Regions from separate parts of the Homo sapiens genome. Here region 1 is linked to region 2. The links come from fine-mapping of genetic effects on gene expression. Tissue or cell type: tibial nerve. Region 2 holds a variant in brackets; the other region holds the start of a gene. All regions are shown on one strand. Distances are between the middles of the regions.

Evidence for each region. PIP is the estimated chance that this variant, and not a neighbour inherited with it, causes the effect.
Region 1: FOXP4 starts here. The variant in region 2 is fine-mapped to the expression of FOXP4 in tibial nerve (GTEx, PIP 0.91).

What each region holds. Positions count from the first base shown.
Region 1 is chr6:41,542,373-41,550,546 of GRCh38, forward strand. It overlaps FOXP4 (forkhead box P4), which reads left to right and starts at 4,009. Exons shown (of 17, transcript NM_001012426.2): 1 at 4,009-4,495. FOXP4-AS1 (FOXP4 antisense RNA 1) reads right to left here and starts at 6,249. Exons shown (of 2, transcript NR_126415.1): 1 at 6,006-6,249. RefSeq lists silencers at 2,019-2,313, 3,356-3,625, 3,956-4,635, 4,706-4,885, 5,176-5,325 and an enhancer at 3,696-3,805.
Region 2 is chr6:41,496,938-41,505,111 of GRCh38, forward strand. It overlaps LINC01276 (long intergenic non-protein coding RNA 1276), which reads left to right and starts at 5,507. Exons shown (of 3, transcript NR_120347.1): 1 at 5,507-5,674; 2 at 5,866-6,036. It overlaps LOC112267957 (a long non-coding RNA gene), which reads right to left and starts at 8,064. Exons shown (of 3, transcript XR_002956346.2): 1 at 7,310-8,064. RefSeq lists enhancers at 5,712-6,459, 6,460-7,207, 7,911-8,010. The variant G/A (reference allele first, on the strand shown) is at 4,005.

The sequences.
Region 1 (8,174 bases), 45 kb after region 2:
CTTTTGGTGAACATATGTACATATGCATTTTTATTGGCATATACTTAGGAGTGGAGTGGAGTGGAGTTACTGTATTATGCTGATAAAGTGGGTTTTATTTTTGTTTTTTGTTTTTTGAGACAGAGTTTCGCTCTTGTTGCCCAGGCTAGAGTGCAATGGCACGATCTCAGCTCACTGCAAGCTCCACCTCCCATGTTCAAGCGATTCTCCTGCCTCAGCCTCCTGAGTAGCTGGGATTACAGGCATGTGCCACCACACCTGGCTAATTTTGTATTTTTAGTAGAGATGGGGTTTCTCCATGTTGGTCAGGCTGGTCTCAAACTCCCAACCTCAGGTAATCCACCCACCTGCCTCGGCCTCCCAAAGTGCTGGGATTACAGGCGTGAGCCACCACACCTGGCCTATGCTGATGAAGTTTTATTCCTCAATAACTAAAAAATAGTTTTTGGCCAGGTGTAGTGGCTCATGCCTGTAATCCCAGTACTTTGGGAGGCCAAGGCGGGCAGATCACTTGAGGTCAGGAGTTCGAGACCAGCCTGGCCAATATGGCAAAACCCCATCTCTACTAAAAATACAAAAATTAGCAGGGCATGGTGGCATGAGCCTGTAGTCCCAGCTACTCGGGAGGCTGAGGCAGGAGAATTGCTTCAACTCAGAAGGCGGAGGTTGCAGTGAGCTGAGATTGTGCCATTGCACTCCAGCCTGGACAACAGAGTGAGACTCTGTCTCAATAATAATAATAATAATAGAAACATAAACTGTCTGGGCTTAGGTTTGTTGGGACCATGGGAATGAAGCAAATGTTTCTAGATGTACACACCACTACCACCCCAACCTACTCCTGAGTATCAGGCCTGCTGCTAGGAACAAGCTCATCCATCAGCCCACTTCACCTCCACAATAGGGTGGCGGCTGACCTTGGGAAAGGGCGTCTGCTTCAAAGCAGGAGACCTGGGAGCAAGTCCTCGCCACACTACTTCCTAGCTATGTGAACTGAGCAAGTCATTTGACCTCTCTTAGCTTCACCTGCAGAAGAGTCACCATTGCTGGGGTGATAAGCTGAACAGCACGTTATTCGACTGCCTGGCAAGCATTTAATAAGTGGCAACTCATGATTTGCAGTTTTGTGAGGTCAGCATTCGTCATTTTAAGTGAGGACCCTGGAGCTCATCAAGGGGAAAATAAGTAATTATGGAAAGCATGTGAGGAACACATTACCAGGCTAGAAGTTTTGCCCATCCTCCCTCCCAAACACCCAAGGAGGCCTCCCAACCTCCCAATTGATGAGTGAGGTGATGAGTGAGTTAACTGAGACTCAAACATCATGTAACTTGCCTGGGTCACACACTGGTTAAGTGACAGACGCTGAAGTTCAACCCAAGGCTGCCTGACTCTAGCCCCTGTGCTCTTAACTATGGCCCCCCTGGAGGGGCCAAGCCATGAGCCTTGGTTCCGGCCACCGCCAAAGCACCTGCACCTGCCCTGAGTCCTGTGAAGGAACAAGGACAGAAAGAGGACCCTCCTGCCTGCTCCCGGTCACTCCCACTTTGGAGCCAAGGGCTACTCTTTTCAACCTTCTTAACGAAGCTCTTGCACCAGGAAGAAGGGCTTTGGACTGGCTTCTTTGATTTCGGGGCATTTGTTCTGTATCTTTCTTTGGGGAGGCTTTGTCTTCCTCGCTAAAATGCCCTTTAGGTGAAGACAAGACAGGGTCTTTTGATGCCTTGAGCCCCCACTGTAGCTCACAGGGAGCTGGGAACTGAACTGGCCTGGAGATGAGGGGTAAACTGAACTGAAAGTGAAGCATTTCCCAGGGCAATCCCTCTGGGCAAGTGAGCCCATGTGTAAGGTACAAGGGCTGCTGCAGGAAGGGGATGGGAAAAACATTCAGTGAACCAGCCAGAAAAGGGCTGGAGAAGCCCCTCGGAGGTCACCTCATTCAATACCCCCCTACAGAAATTCTCTCTTTTGTCTCCAAAGCCCCTAGTTCTCACCCCACCCTCAGCCTTTGCTGCAAGAAGGATAGGAAGGAGAACTGAGGACATAGTCACTGGCCCAGCTGGTCTGACACAAGGACTTGCCACTCCAGGCTTGGCCTAGGGCTGTCCACACACCATGATTTCCACCAGAGCTGGGCCTCAACAGAAGGTAAATCAGATAGTACTACCAAGGGCTTTCTTTCTCCCAGAATATCCTTCCCCTCAGCTAACCCACAAGCAGGCAGTGTCGCTTCAGAGACCACCATGAGCTTCTTTCTTGTCCTCACTGAAGTGGCTCTAGTTGGAATCTGGCTCATCACTGACCAGCAGCTGTGTAAGCCTGGGCAAGTTACTTGATCTCTTTGTGCCTCAGTTTCCTCTTCTATAAAATGGAGATAATACAAATATCTCCCTCCTGGGGTTACTGTGAAGATTAAATGGCTGGTGGGTGGTACGACTCAGATGTTAGCTGTTATTTTATTCTTATGGCTATGGTTATCTCAGTTGCCACACTGGAAAGGACACTGAGATATCCACATAAATGGCACTTAGAGTCTTCCCTGCACAATTTCACACCTAGAAATCTAAAACGCTCCAGCAGGACCTAAGTATGCCTGTCCCACCTGCCCAAAAAGGCAAATACATAAAATGTGGACCTGTGCAGGTGTCACTAACATTGCAGAAAAGGGACAGAAGTGATGAAAAACAACCCAAGAGGGTGCCTCCTCTCTGAGGTCCCCTTTTCTTTCAAGGACCACTGGAACGGCCAAGAAATCCCCTCCCCCCAGGCAACTAAGCATCAATCCTTGCAGCTCCGACCCCACACCTCAGGCTTCCAGCTCCCACTCCACAGGGGCTCACATACTATGCCAGCCTCTTGTCCACCTGCCTGAGGATTTAGGGCCAGGAGAGGCTTCAAGAGCCACTGTCTTCTTGTCCTGATCCCACAACAGGATCCTCCCTTGGTCATGGGGACCCGGCATCACTGAGCTGGGTTGGGGTACTTCATGAGGACCCCTGAGGCCTCCTTCACTTCTCCCCACCCCCAACACATGCAGACAGATGGGAGATGTTTCCGGCGTGTGTGGGGCGGGGAGGGGGACGGGTATTGAGATTTCCACGGGACTCTGAGTGGTGCGTCTGCTAACAACACAGCCCTCCCCCTTGGGCCGTGGGCATTTCCTCACCCAGACCTCCCCCTCCCAACCCAAACACACCATCGCCGCCACCACCACAATCCCTCCAGTCCCCCTGGGCAAAAGCGATGTTCAGAGACGCGGGGTTTTGTTTACAATCTAATTTGTCCGGATAATTGCCTCAACTTTGCACTTCACTTTGCCCGCATGGCTCTGGCCTTGGGCCCCTTCTTCACTGGTTCGCAGAGCACTTTACGGGAAATTCCCTTTCCGCAGAGGGAGGCAGTGCGCGCCAGGGGGTGACCGTTCACAAAGCCCTGAAGGGGCCTCCCCACCTTCTACCCTCGGCTCAGGAAGCCCACCCCCAGCCCCCACGCAGTGGGGAGCAGGAGGGAGGCCAGACAGGGCCCGGGCCTGACACTGGCTCCGTCTCTGGGCCCCCGGCCACTCCCCGCGCCGAGCGCAGCCCGCCGGGAACCAGTGAACCGTGTGGGATCAGGACTTGGCCGTACCTTCAGACTCCAGGGGATGGCCGGGGTTTGCAAGCGCCCCATAGGATTAGTCCGAGGCCAGGGTGAATCCCTGGGGTCCCTCCACCTACCATCTTTTTCAGATCTGCCGCCTCACGTCTTCTCCCCACGTTCCCATTTTTCCTCCCCTAAAGTTTGGTGCACGTGGTTTTCTCTCGCTCTCAGCGGGCTGCCAGGCGGGGTGAAAGTTGCTGCACCTGCTTTAGGCGAATTATGGTAGCACTAGAAGTTGGTCTCCCCTCCCTCCGCCGCTTGCTCTCTCGCTCCCTCCTCCCTCGCTCTCCGCGCGCTCCCTCCTTCCCTCTCCACCCTCCTCCTCCCCCGCCCCCTCCCGCCCCGCCCGCGCGCCGCCCGCTCGCAGCCACTCGCAGCCCAGGCTCAGTCGCAGCCCCTCGGAGTCCGGAGCCCGCCGTCCCTGCGGACCGGACAGTGCGGCCGGCGGCCGGCGGCCGGGACGGAGCCCCCAGCCCGCGAGGAGGGCGCGGCGCAGGCGGCGGCGGCGCGGCGGGGAGGAGCCCGGGCCGGAACCAGGGCTGGGCCGGGGGCGGGGACGCCGGGGTCCGGGAGCCCGGGAGCCGGAGCGAGCTGACGAGCGTCGCGGAAGGACCGGGAAGGAAGAGCGGAGCCGGAGCGAGCCAAGCAGCCCACAAAGTGCCATGCCCCGGCGGGGTTGAGGCGCGCGGCGGTCGGCCCGGCGCGCTGGGAGGACGCCCGGGAGCTGCGCGACGCGGGGCGGCGCGGAAGGGCAGCCCCGGCGGGCGGCGGCGGGCCCGGGCTGCGACCGGAGCGAGCCCCATGCCCCGCGCGGGCTGACGGGCCGGAGCCCGCACGGAGCGGCCGGGCGGGACAGGTAGGTGGCGGGTCGGGCCCAGGGACGTGGGTGGGGGCTGGGCGGGCGACCAGACCAACTCCCTCGCTCGCGCACTCTCTCGCCCGCTCGCTGGCTCACTTTGTGTTTGCAAACTGCCCGCCCGAGACGCGCTGGGCGCCGGGCGCCAGGAGGAGCCGGGCCCGGGCCGGCGCACTTTGTTCCAGCCAGGGCCGGCCGTGGCGCACTGACCCCGCGCAGCCGCGACATTCCGCCCCTGGCCCGGGCCCCAGCGGGCCGGAGCTGCCTCGGGAACAGGTGGGGGCTGTGGCGCGGCGGGAGTGGGGGCAGCCGGAGGCCGGGGCGGGGAGGGGGGCGGCCGGAGAGGCCACCGAGGCCCGCCCTTCCCCAAGAATCTGGGCCCCGCCCCCTCCCCGCCGGGCCTCTGGGAATGGGGTGTACGGGGGCGCGACCCCCTCCCCGCCCCGAGTCAGACAAAGAATACTTCCCGGCCCAGACTTTCCAGAGCTGGGAAGGGAAGTGGCTCCCCCCAACTCTAGTCGGTACCGGACTCCCCAGGACGCGCCGGAGACAGATGAAAATGGGGGCAAGAGAGCGGGGGATCGCGGTCCTACCCGCCGTGTCGTCTCTGGTGAAGAGGGGACTTGTCTTGCTGAGGTCGCACCTCGGAAGTGCCAGGGCCAGTCAGCCCCTTTTCCATCGCTCGGTCAGCTCGGGGATAGAGCGGAAAACTTCTTGGGGACTTGAGAGCGTCTGGAAATGGCCCCTGTGATTTGTGCGCCGGAGGTGGAGGGTGGGGAAACGATCTGGCTGACACCTCTACTCACCCGCTGTGGAGAGAGCTCCCGCTTCACCACTTAAGGGGGGAAGAGAGGGCGGCCACGGGGGCCCGGAGGCCACCAGGGAAGGAGCCCGGAGTGACCGAGCAGGACCCCCCCCCGCCCCAACTGAGGAGTCTGGTATCTCCCCTGGACAACCCCAGCACCTCTCTGACCGGCGGCGCTTCAGCCTCGGGCTCCTCATCCACGCCAAACAAACTTCCTTGGGCTGCGTCAGAGCACAGCCAGTGGCGCTAGAATGCGACCTGGGGTCCCGGCCGCCCCCATAAAGGACCGGGTAATTTCGCGGAATGCGGATTTTGAGACAGGCCCAGACGGCGGCGGATTCCCTGTGTCCCCCAACTGGGGCGATCTCGTGAACACACCTGCGTCCCACCCCGATCCTAGGTTGGGGGGAAAGGGTATGGGAACCCTGAGCCCAGAGCGCGCCCCGCTCTTTCCTTTGCTCCCCGGCTTCCCTGGCCAGCCCCCTCCCGGCTGGTTTCCTCGCTCACTCGGCGCCTGGCGTTTCGGGCGTCTGGAGATCACCGCGTGTCTGGCACCCCAACGTCTAGTCTCCCCGCAGGTTGACCGCGGCGCCTGGAGCCGGGAATAGGGGTGGGGAGTCCGGAGAACCAAACCCGAGCCTGAAGTTGCCATTCGGGTGACTCCCGAGAAAGCCCGGGAGCATTTTGGCCAATGCGGGTTTTTACCTGAACTTCAGCATCTTCACCCCGGTTTCGGAGACCTGCCTAGATTCGTCCCAGCACGCACTGTTTCGGGTTCGGGATTGAGGGTTAGGGCAGCACACACAGCTTGAGGGGCAATTGTTAGGACTGGCCCGAGTGCCCGCAGAAAGAAAGAGCAGCGGGGTTGTCGTATGGCCTGTAGCTGCGGGAAGGTCTGTGCCGGTCCCACTGTCGAACCCAGAAGCTCACTTTCCACAGAAAACCAGGGCTGAAGGGCCCCCTGACCGCCATGCCCTGCGGGCACCGGGCATTTTGAGCTCTCCCCCACCCCCTCCCCCTGCTGCGAACCAGCCGGTAGGTGCAGGGGCCGAAGGCCAGGCCCAGTGGACCCAGCCGCCTGAAGGGGAGCCACGGCCTCAGAAAACCTCTGCCCGCCCCCGCGGAAAACCGCTGTGGGGAAGTCTGAAGGCCTTTTTTTTTTTTTTTTTTTTTCAACTTGAGAAACTTTTGCCTCGGGGTTTTGGGGCTCTGTTACCTGGTGGCTGGAGGGAGGATACTGGGGCTCTGCTCTTGGTACCTGGACAGCTTGTTGGCTCCCATGGTGCCCTTTCGATCTGAAACTCAAAAAACTGTGAGTTGGGGGAGTCACTCACACTCTAGTCAGTGGGGCAAGGTGGCAAGGGGAAGAGGTGGTTTTGTGGTTGCCCCCTCTCAGCCTCCACACCCAGGGCCAGGGTGAGCGCTGAATCTCTCCTGCGGGACGGGACCCTCAGGACCCACTTTATCCTGGCTCCAGCCTTGCTACTAAGTTTGGGAGACCATGGGAGCCTTCTCTCCTGGCACCAAGGGCTGGGCGCCTGGGTGGAGTTTTCTGTCCTTCTCCCTGTCCTGGACAGGTTTCCCAGGAGTTACGGAGTTGGGGAACCCCTGAGCCCTGGAGAGAGAAAGACCTGACCCCAGTGCTGGAGAACGCCAGGGCCAGAGCATTTGCAAAGGGTCCCACTTGCAAAGGGACCTGCTCCTGTCCCTTTCTGTGTAGGGATCTTCCTCACACCTAGACGCCCCCAGCCCCCTTCCTCTGCCTTTAGAGCCGAAAACTTCCGTTCTGGCTGTAGGCAGGTAGGTCCCTTCTTGCCAGGAATGTGCATATCCTGCTGGGCCCCTACCCCAAACATACCTCTTCCTTGGTGGGAGGGAAGCAGAGGGACTGGGAGAGGAAGGCTTGCTTTTGATCCAGTAATTCCCCCAAATGTTTGCTGAGCCCCTACTCTGCCTGGGCAGGTCCCAGGCTGAGTACTGGGGTACCCAAGCAGTGAAGGCTGGGGTCTGCTGTCTGGACCTCAGATTGTTGGGGTAGGAGAGACAGATATCACATGGTGGGGGGGAGGGTGGAGGGGAGAAGAATGGGAACAGGGTGTCTGTTTCAGAGGAGAGTTGTGAGGTGCAAGGGGAGGGAAGGGTTGTCTCCCCAGGAAGCCTTCCCTGCATCTTAACCCTTCCTACCCCACTGCCTTGGCGGTTTCCTGTCTCTCCAGCCACAGTGCAAGCCCCCCAGTCCCATCCTAAGCAGGCACAATGTCTTTATTTTTTGAATAGCCTAAACTGTGTGAAATAATAATTTCTTCCATCCAAGAAACTCCTCACAGTTTCCCTTCTCACAGATCTTACCACGCTCCAGCTTCCCTAGACCAAGGCAGGGCAGGTACTATTTTTGACAGGACTCTCAGGCTCCGTTGGCTGGAATGACCTCCTCAGATTTGGTTCCAGAACTCTGGAACCCAGAGCAAGGAACTGAGGCCTCCCCAGGGCAGAACATGTGTCAGAGTGGAAAAGGCTTTGGAACTTGGCATTAGAGATGGGACTCTGGAGAACTTAATTAAGCTCTTCGAACCTCAATTTTCTTACATTGTAAAGTAGGTCATAATACCCACCTTAGAGATTCTGTTTGGGAGTTAGATGAGAGAGCAGATGTCAAGTACCTTGCACGGTGCCGGGTGCATGGTAGTACTGATCAAGGGATGGCGTTTATTATTAATTTGCTAGCACTGCCAGGCCACATGTTGGTTGAATATGGAAATACTGAAGTATTAATCTTCATTTTATGGGTTGGGAAAACGAAGTCCAGAGAGAAGAGGCAACTTGTCCAAGGTTACACAGCTACATGGTAGCACAGCTGGAACTAAAATATGGGGC
Region 2 (8,174 bases):
CTATAAGAAAAACAGCCTCCTACAAGTCCAAAACTTTTTTGACATCTTGCATCTTATCTTAAAAGCCTATGAGCTTTGAATTTTACTCCATAGTATAACTATGTGTATTATAAATTAAAATAATGTTTTAAATGTCATTTTAAAATGTTCCCCCAAAATCTTGAGATAAAATGGAAGCTCCAAGAAGGTGTGCTAAGTTTATTCTACTGCTTCCTCTGTCCTCTGCGGTAGGGGCCAGGGAGGGAGAGAGAGGGTGTTGTTGTGGACAGCCTTGTCTACTTTTGATAACTACAACCCTTTCTTCATTGAACCCCTGCTCCTCTCTTCCATGCAATTCTGTGGGGCTGCCAATTACAACTCCCCAGCTCCTCTGGCCTCAGGGTGGGCCCATGAGCCAGGTCTAGCCAATTGTCAAACATAACTTTCTTGGACACCTGATTTGTCCAAAAGGTGGGCACATGACCCAATCTAGGCCAAAAGGAGCTCTTCGCTAAAATGTTATAGATGGAGGGTGCTGGGAATAGCAAATCCTCTCTTTCTTCTGAGATGTGAGCATGAAATTGCTGCCAGGCTCTTCTACCCACCTCTCTCTGCCCTCCAGCAGATGAGAGAAGTCTTGACCTCCCTCTCCCTCTCCACGCCCCAACTGCAGTTAGAGAGGAAGATCAATTGCAACAGGAAAAACAAAACAAAACAAAAAGATGAGGCTATCACACACCAAAAAGCATAGCCACCATATGAATGAGATCAAGAAAGAATGCAAGAGAGAAAGCTGAACATATCTTTTGAGGCATGGCAGTCCCTAAACTTTGCCCCCTGCCCCAATGCATGTGCATGCACGTGCATGCACACGCACACACACACACACTCCTATCCTTCCTGGTTATTTGAGCCAATAAATCCCTTCCTTTTGCTTAAACTAGTTGGAGGTGAATTTCCATCACTTGCTCCCTGAGCAATATCTCCTGGCACACTCAGTCCTACTTAATAACTCCCAGCTCCCAGCACACTACAGCCCAGAGAAGGAGCAAGGGCCCAATGGAGTTTGGAATTGGGAAACTCAAGTTATATGTGGAGAAGGTGTCACACTCTCCTACCAGGAACCTTCCAAAGTTCTCCCTCACAGAGCTTTGGGCTGGAAAGGACCTCAAGCAGAGGGCTGGCAGGGAATCTATCCCAACTAGCTCTCTGCCGCCTTCAAAGAAGCCTGACTCAGCCTCCTGCCTTGGAAACCCATCCCAGGACCTCCTGTCTGAGACATCGCAAATCTGTCCAGCTTAGTCAAGCCTGTTTCACCTTCTCCTGCCCTAGTGGAAGCTGGACTATAGCCAATCCCTCCTCTCCTTTTCCATTTCTTCAGAGGCTCAGCCCACTCTTCTCTTTACTATTCTTTTGCCCTTGTTAGTGTAGGTTCATGCATGTTGTGTGTACTAGTTACTGGCTAAGAACACAGGCTCTAGACAGACTGCCTGGGGTCAATCCTGGTTCTGTTCCTTCCTAGCTGTGAGACTTTTGGCAAGTTGCTTACCTTCTCTGTGCTTTGGTTTCCTCATCTTCAAAATGAAAATGATTATATGAATTAATGTATATAGAGTACTTAGAACCATTCCTGGCACATAGTAAGTGCTCAATAAATACTCGTTATTATTGTATGTTAATGCTGTGTGTGTGTGTGTTCAGCCCCTTTCCCAGCTGATTGGGAGTTCCCTGAGGACAAGAAACATACTTTATTCATCTTCAAAGGCCCAGGGCATCAAAGTGCTTGACATAAGAGAGGCAGCTCAAAAAAAATGTATGTTGACTGAATGAATGATGAATGAATGAAGATTGGTTGGCTGAACACTTAGAGAATTTAAGTCCTGATTCCTGTCCTTAGGTCTCTCAATAGTCCCACATGGGTACCCATCAATTCTGCCTACATCTGAACCCAGAGGGGAGGTTTGTCAGGCAAAAAGGATCTTGCAGCAGAGTAACAACAGAAGCAAGAACAACCAGCTCTGCCCTGTGTACACCCCTTAACAACAACCAAGGCTCTGTCACAATGCCACACATCACTGTGAGGTAGACAGAGCAAGGGTAATCCTTATCCCATCTTACAGATGAGTAAACTGAGGGTTAGAGCAGTAATGTGACTTTCCTAAAGACAGACACAGCTAGCTAGTGGCCCAGCTGAGGCCACAGCCCCGTCACCAGACTTGATTAGATCTCTGTCAACCACATCCCAGCAGCCAAATGCTCCCTCCTTTTGCCCTCCTGCGGGGCCACGCAGCACACACCACAACCCCTTGGTCCACTGTGGTCTAGGCAAGAGCAGAAGAGTCCAAAAGCAGATGACTATCATCTTCCATTTGTCTTGGTATCTATGACCACATCTTCCATATGTCTCAATATTTGTACAGCCTAGTGGGAGGGTTGTAGAGAGTCCAGAAGTGAAGGCAACTCCAGAGCACACAATGGTCCATTGTGCCCCTGTATCCCCCTTCCCTTCACCACACCCAGCACACAGCGTCCTGTTTACCTGCCTCCAAGGCCTGGCTCCATCTCAGGTGCCACTCCAACTGGGCCCACGCACAGGCATTGCCAAACCCTCTGCCCACGAGCCCTAGGCTTGGCAGTGATGCCCTTCTTGGGGATTCCCCCCAGCTTTTGTCCCACCCCCAGTCCCTTCTACCCCAACACAGACCCCTCCTCTTGGCTCATAGCACAGTACCTGGCACACAGTAGTTCTCTGGAAATGGTTCCTGACAGTAAGTGGTTCCTTAGTGACGATCATAACCTCAGGCCCATCTGTCAAGGGGTTCTCCCAGCTTCAGAGGTGGGCGATGGCATTGTGAAGGAGGTGGGTTCCAGGGCTGAGTGTCAGCTAGACTTAGAAAAAGTTTCCTGTCCCCTTCCCTGAGCCTGGGACTTTGGGGGGAGGGCGGCGAGGGAATATAAAGCCTGTCCATCTCTAGGGACAGAAGACCCATATTAGGCACTGTCTTGGTCCAGCTGGGATGCCATTCTCCCATTCTCTCAGAAGTCAGAAGTCAAGGGTCAGGGCACCACCAAGGTCTTCAGGGACAGAAGCCCAGGCAAGAGGACAGATGGAGAGGTCTGCTCCTCAGGCCCAGATTGTGTTTGGGGGTCAAGAAGCCGGGTAGAGGTGGGAGGGGAAAGCTGCCCAGGAGAAAGTTAAGCATCATCAGTTCATCCACATACTATTCACACGCTGGGACAGAATAAGAGAGAGAAAGAGAGGAAGATAGCTGAGGGGAGCAAGAAGGGAAAAAGACAGGGACACCACAGTGAAAAGCCAAGAGGCAAGGCCAGGCACGGTGGCTCAAGCCTGTAATCCCAGCACTTTGGGAGGCCAAGGTGGGCGGATCACTGGAGGTCAGCAGTTCAAGACCAGCCTGGCCAACATGGTGAAACCTCATTTCTACTAAAAATACAAAAAATTAGCTGGGCGTGGTGGCATGTGCCTGTAATCCCAGCTACTCGGGAGGCTGACACAGGAGAATCACTTGAACTCAGGAAGCGGAGGTTGCAGTGAGCTGAGATCGCTCAACTGCACTCCAGCCTGGGTGAGAGTGAGACTCCATCTCAAAAAAAAAAAAAAAAAAAGAAAAGAAAAGAAAAGAAAAGAAAAGAAAAGCCAAGAAGCAGATGGGAAATGGGAGAGCACAAAACCACACCTCCAGGTAAGCAGGCTCTGGCAAGGACGATGAGGTTCCCCCAGCTGAAAGAAGAAGCAGACATCAAACACAAAGGCTGCAGAGGAGCATGGAAAGCATCCAGTCCAACCTACTCATTTCACCTATAAGGAGTCCAAGGCCCAGAGAGGGACATGTCTTGCCCGGGGTTACACAGCAAGTCAAGACTCAGCCCAAACCAGAGTCACAGAATGATGGCTCCAGGCTAGAAGACATTTCTTGACTTTCTACTGAGCAGAGAAAAGGGGGCTTCAGAGGGTCATACTCTGCCTGACTTCTGGAAATGTGGGAGCAAGAAGAACAGCCATC[G/A]TGGCCCACCCAGCCTATGGCCAGGTATCAGAACAAAGAAATGGAACATTCAGGCCCACTGCTTGTCTACCTAGCAGCACTTGAGCCAAGGTTTGATGGGCTTTCTATTGTACCCATTGATTTATTCCACCACTTACTCTATGTGCCTAGCACTGTGCCAGGCCCTCAAGTTGAGGAGGAGGACAAGAAGAGGGTGGCAAGGAGGCTACAAGCTAGTTTATTCGAATACTTTGAAAGAAGGCTAATTAAGTGGACATTCAGTCAGAGGTTGCTGTATGCCAGCTGCTTGCCCCATGTTACTGTGTCAGAGACTCACAAGGCAGTTCCTACTGTTAGTCCCATTTTTTCAGATGTTGACACTGAGGCTCAGAGAGACTAAGAGGCCCTAGGTCCTACAACTGATGTGGCAGAGCAGGAAGTTAAACCACACCATTTGCTCTTAACCATTAGGCTGTACGGTCCCCCAGGATGGGCTTTAAGAGCTACAGTGATGAGGTTACCCCCACCACACTGTGATCCATCACAGCCCCCCTCTTTTTTTTTTTTTTTTTTGAGACAGAGTCTCACTCTGTCACCCAGGCTGGAGTGCAGTGGCGCAATCTCAGCTCACTGCAACCTCCTCCTCCTGGGTTCAAGCAATTCTCTGCCTCAGCCTCCCGAGTAGCTGGGATTACAGGCACCCGCCACCACACCTGGCTAATTTTTGTATTTTTAGTAGAGATGGGGGTTTCACCATCTTGGCCAGGCTGGTCTTGAACTTCTGACCTCGTGATCTGCCCACCTCGGCCTCCCAGAGTGTTGGGATTACAGGTATGAGCCACTGCACTCGGCCAACACCCCTCCTTCTATCCCAGCCAAGGTGAGTCAGTCCCTCCTCTGAGGCTTTTATAAATGCCTCCCATGGCCCCTTATTTTTGGCCTAGTCTTGGAATTAATTGTCAGCATGTCTGTCTCCCTGGCAAGTTGGAGGGCAGAAATGGCCTTTGCTCAGCTCTGAACCCCCAGTGCCTAGAACAGTGTCTGGCATATGGCAGGTGCTCAATAACTGGTTATGGAAGGAGTATAGCTGGGTAATATGGTATCCCCATATGAACAGAAAATAAAACCCAGTAGAGGCTTAGGTCCAAGGGAGGGGCAGGAAGAGAGTTTCATTAGTCTCCAAATGTCCTGAGTCTAGCACACTGCCTGGAATATACTAAATGCCCTCATAAGTGCCCTTTGGAGTGAGTATGGAGGGTGCTCCAGATACGAGGCTTCCATGGGCCTAGAGGATGGACTCAGGAGGTTTGAGACTGCATTTGGATTGCGGCCAGAACTCAGGGCCCCATCCCAAGAAGTTTGAGGCCCAGCCAGACCACCATGAGAGCCTGCAGAGGACTGGGGTTCAGGGTACTGGGGGCCTCTTTTAGGAGTGCAGGCTGTTCCTGTGGACTCTGCCAGGGCTCAAAGCTGCGGACTGGGGGGTGGGCTGGATCAGAGTGAACAGGAGCGGGCAGGCTGGAGTTGGGACACATTCTCCAGCCTCTTCTGTTTGCAGGTGCCTGAGGACACCTTCAAACCTTCTCTGCTCCGTTGTAGAACTTTTTCCAGCAAGGGGGAGAGGAAGGACAAAAGGCTATGCCTTGGGCTCCAAAGTTTAGGAGAGGAGCCATGGAGATGGACAGAGAGAGGTGAGGAGAGAGAGACCCAGGAGGCCTCTGGGAAGGGAAGGGAAGGTTGCTGAGGAAGGAAGTCTGCACTTGGGGCCAGCCCTGCCTCTGGCACCAGCCCCACTGGGCCAGGGTCCCAGGGATTTATTGACTAATCCTCAAATGATACACTTTCCCTGATTTATTCTCTCTCCCGCTTGCAATCTCACAAGATCCCATTGTCTCTGGACACTGCTGGCCAAGGGCCTCCACCTCAGGAGCTGCTGCCTCTCATCCACTTCCGGGGCGAGGGTAATGGAAGCTCCCTACCGCCAAGCACCACGACCCTCCCCTGCCTTCTCCAGGCCTAAGGGTCAAGCTGCCAGGCCACCAGGCAGTGCCAGGTACGAGGATGACAACACCTAGCCAACCCGCGGAGAAGGCGGTGAGCTGGGTGACCTCCTGGAGCTGCAAGAGTTTGTGCCTGCTGAGGCCTTGCTCCACCGAGTCTTGGGGGGAGGCAGCTGGCGGGTGGGGGCGTGGCTGCCAAGGAAGTGGGTGTCGGGTACTGGGCGGGGGACAGAGCTAGGTCACAGTCGAGGTTTTCACTGACCCGAGTGGGCGGGGGTAAAGGGAATTCGTAAAAAGTTTCTTTCTTCATTAATGGCCTTTTTTCCCTATCCGAGAGCCTGGGCGCGGGAGGGAGCGAAGACGGCCGGGGGCAGGGCAGGCCCTCCGCAAGTGACACTTAATTCCCGGTCTGGACTGGGCCGGCGCTTGAAAGCAACTAAATTAGCAAAACAGAAGTCAACTGTCGATTGCTTCATTGGAGGATTAAGTGTGATAAATGGGGGGTTTGTTCGCTCTCCGGTCCAGATGTTGTGTCTAAGTAAGGGTTTTTTCAAAAAAAAGTTTTTTTACATTCTTGGCCCAGGGCCCATATATATTTTGGATACTGCTGGGAGTATATAATATCATTGGAAAATGATGCGGTCTGCTAACCTTTTAAATAACATTTCCTCCCTCCTCTATTTTCTAATAGTTTGTTTTTCTTTCCATGTTTGCCTTTTATTGGGGGAAATTTTTTTTGGAAATTAATGAGGCTCAAGTTTGGAGACCAAAATAAAAAAGGGGTGGGGGAGTGTGAGAGGTGGATGGGGTGTGGAATGAAGCTGGGTGGAGGGAGGGCTACTCTTTGTGTGTTTTAAAGCGCTCCTGGTTTGATTTTTTTTTTCTTGTAATTTTCTCTGCCGAGGCTGCCCGCGGCCCTCCGGCGGGGCTGCGCGGTGGCGCGCGCGGGAAGGGCGCCCGGGACTCTCCGCCGCGCCGGGCACCCGCTCGCCCTGCCCGGGCCGTGGGGCTGCGCGCCGCTGGCCTCCGGGAAGAACCTGCCATTCCCCCTGCAGCCGAGTCCGACGTGAGAGGGGGTGGGGGTGGGGGCGCCTCCTTCCTGAGTGAAACCTACGGAATCCGGCAGGAATTCGGGCCTCCCAGATTTAAGAAAACAAACAAAGGAAAGATTGTCAGAGAGGGGCCGCCAAGAGCCGCCGGGCCGCCGCACTGCCCTCCGCCCTCACCCCCGGGGCGCCCGGGCCTCCCAGCGGGGGCAGAACGCGAGGCTGGGGGGCTCCCCCGGGTGGTCCCCGGTGGGCTTCCCTGCCCTGGGTCTTGACTAACCTGTGTTGAGTCATCCTCCTGTCTCTAGAGCTGAAGAGGCCCCAGGGCGCATAGGAAAGGAGGGTGCTGCCGAGGTGGCTGCCTGGGGGCGGGCCCTACAGGGGTCATTTGGGGCATCCCCTGCCTCTAGGCAAATCCCCACGGAGCCCCATCCCGCACCCTCCCGCAGTGTCCAGGGCGAACCCCTGTCCCCAAGCCCAGGCTTAGGAGTGAAATCTCGACGGCTCAGGTTCCTTCTCTACGCAGTCCCCCAGCCAGACTAGGAATGGATCACCGCGCGGGTGGGCTCAGTTCCCGGCTTCGCCCGGGTCTAGGAAGAATGATAAAAAGTGAGAATGTAAAGGGAGGAGGTACTATAAAACAAAAGGGGTTAGACACCCATCAGGCAGCTGCGACCCGGTGGTAAACATGAGCGTCTCCTGTGCTCCCACCGCCTGCGTTCTTCCCGGCCGCGTCCACGTTGGTTTCCTTCTCGTTGTCTTGGTCTCTCCTGATTCTGTTCTCGTGTCAGTCTGCCCTGCCTCTGTTACTCCAAATCTCTGTGGTCTCTCTCCCTCTCTACCTTCTCTGTCTCCTTCTGAATCTGAATATGGCTCAGTGCTTCTGGCTTTCTCTTTGTCTCTGAAGCTATCTCTCTGAGAATGTCTCTGTCCCTTTCTGTCTGCCCCTCTTCGTGTTTCTCTGTCTCAAGCTGACGCTGTCTCGTGGCCTGTCTCACTGTGTCTTCTTCTGTCCTCCTCCTCGTCTTCCTCCTCCTCTCCTCCCTCCTCTCTCTCCCTCCTTCGTACCCCCCCCCGCCCCACTATTCCCCTCCATCTCTCCACCCTGCCCCCGCCTTAGGTAGCCCAGCGGGCGGGCGCCCGGC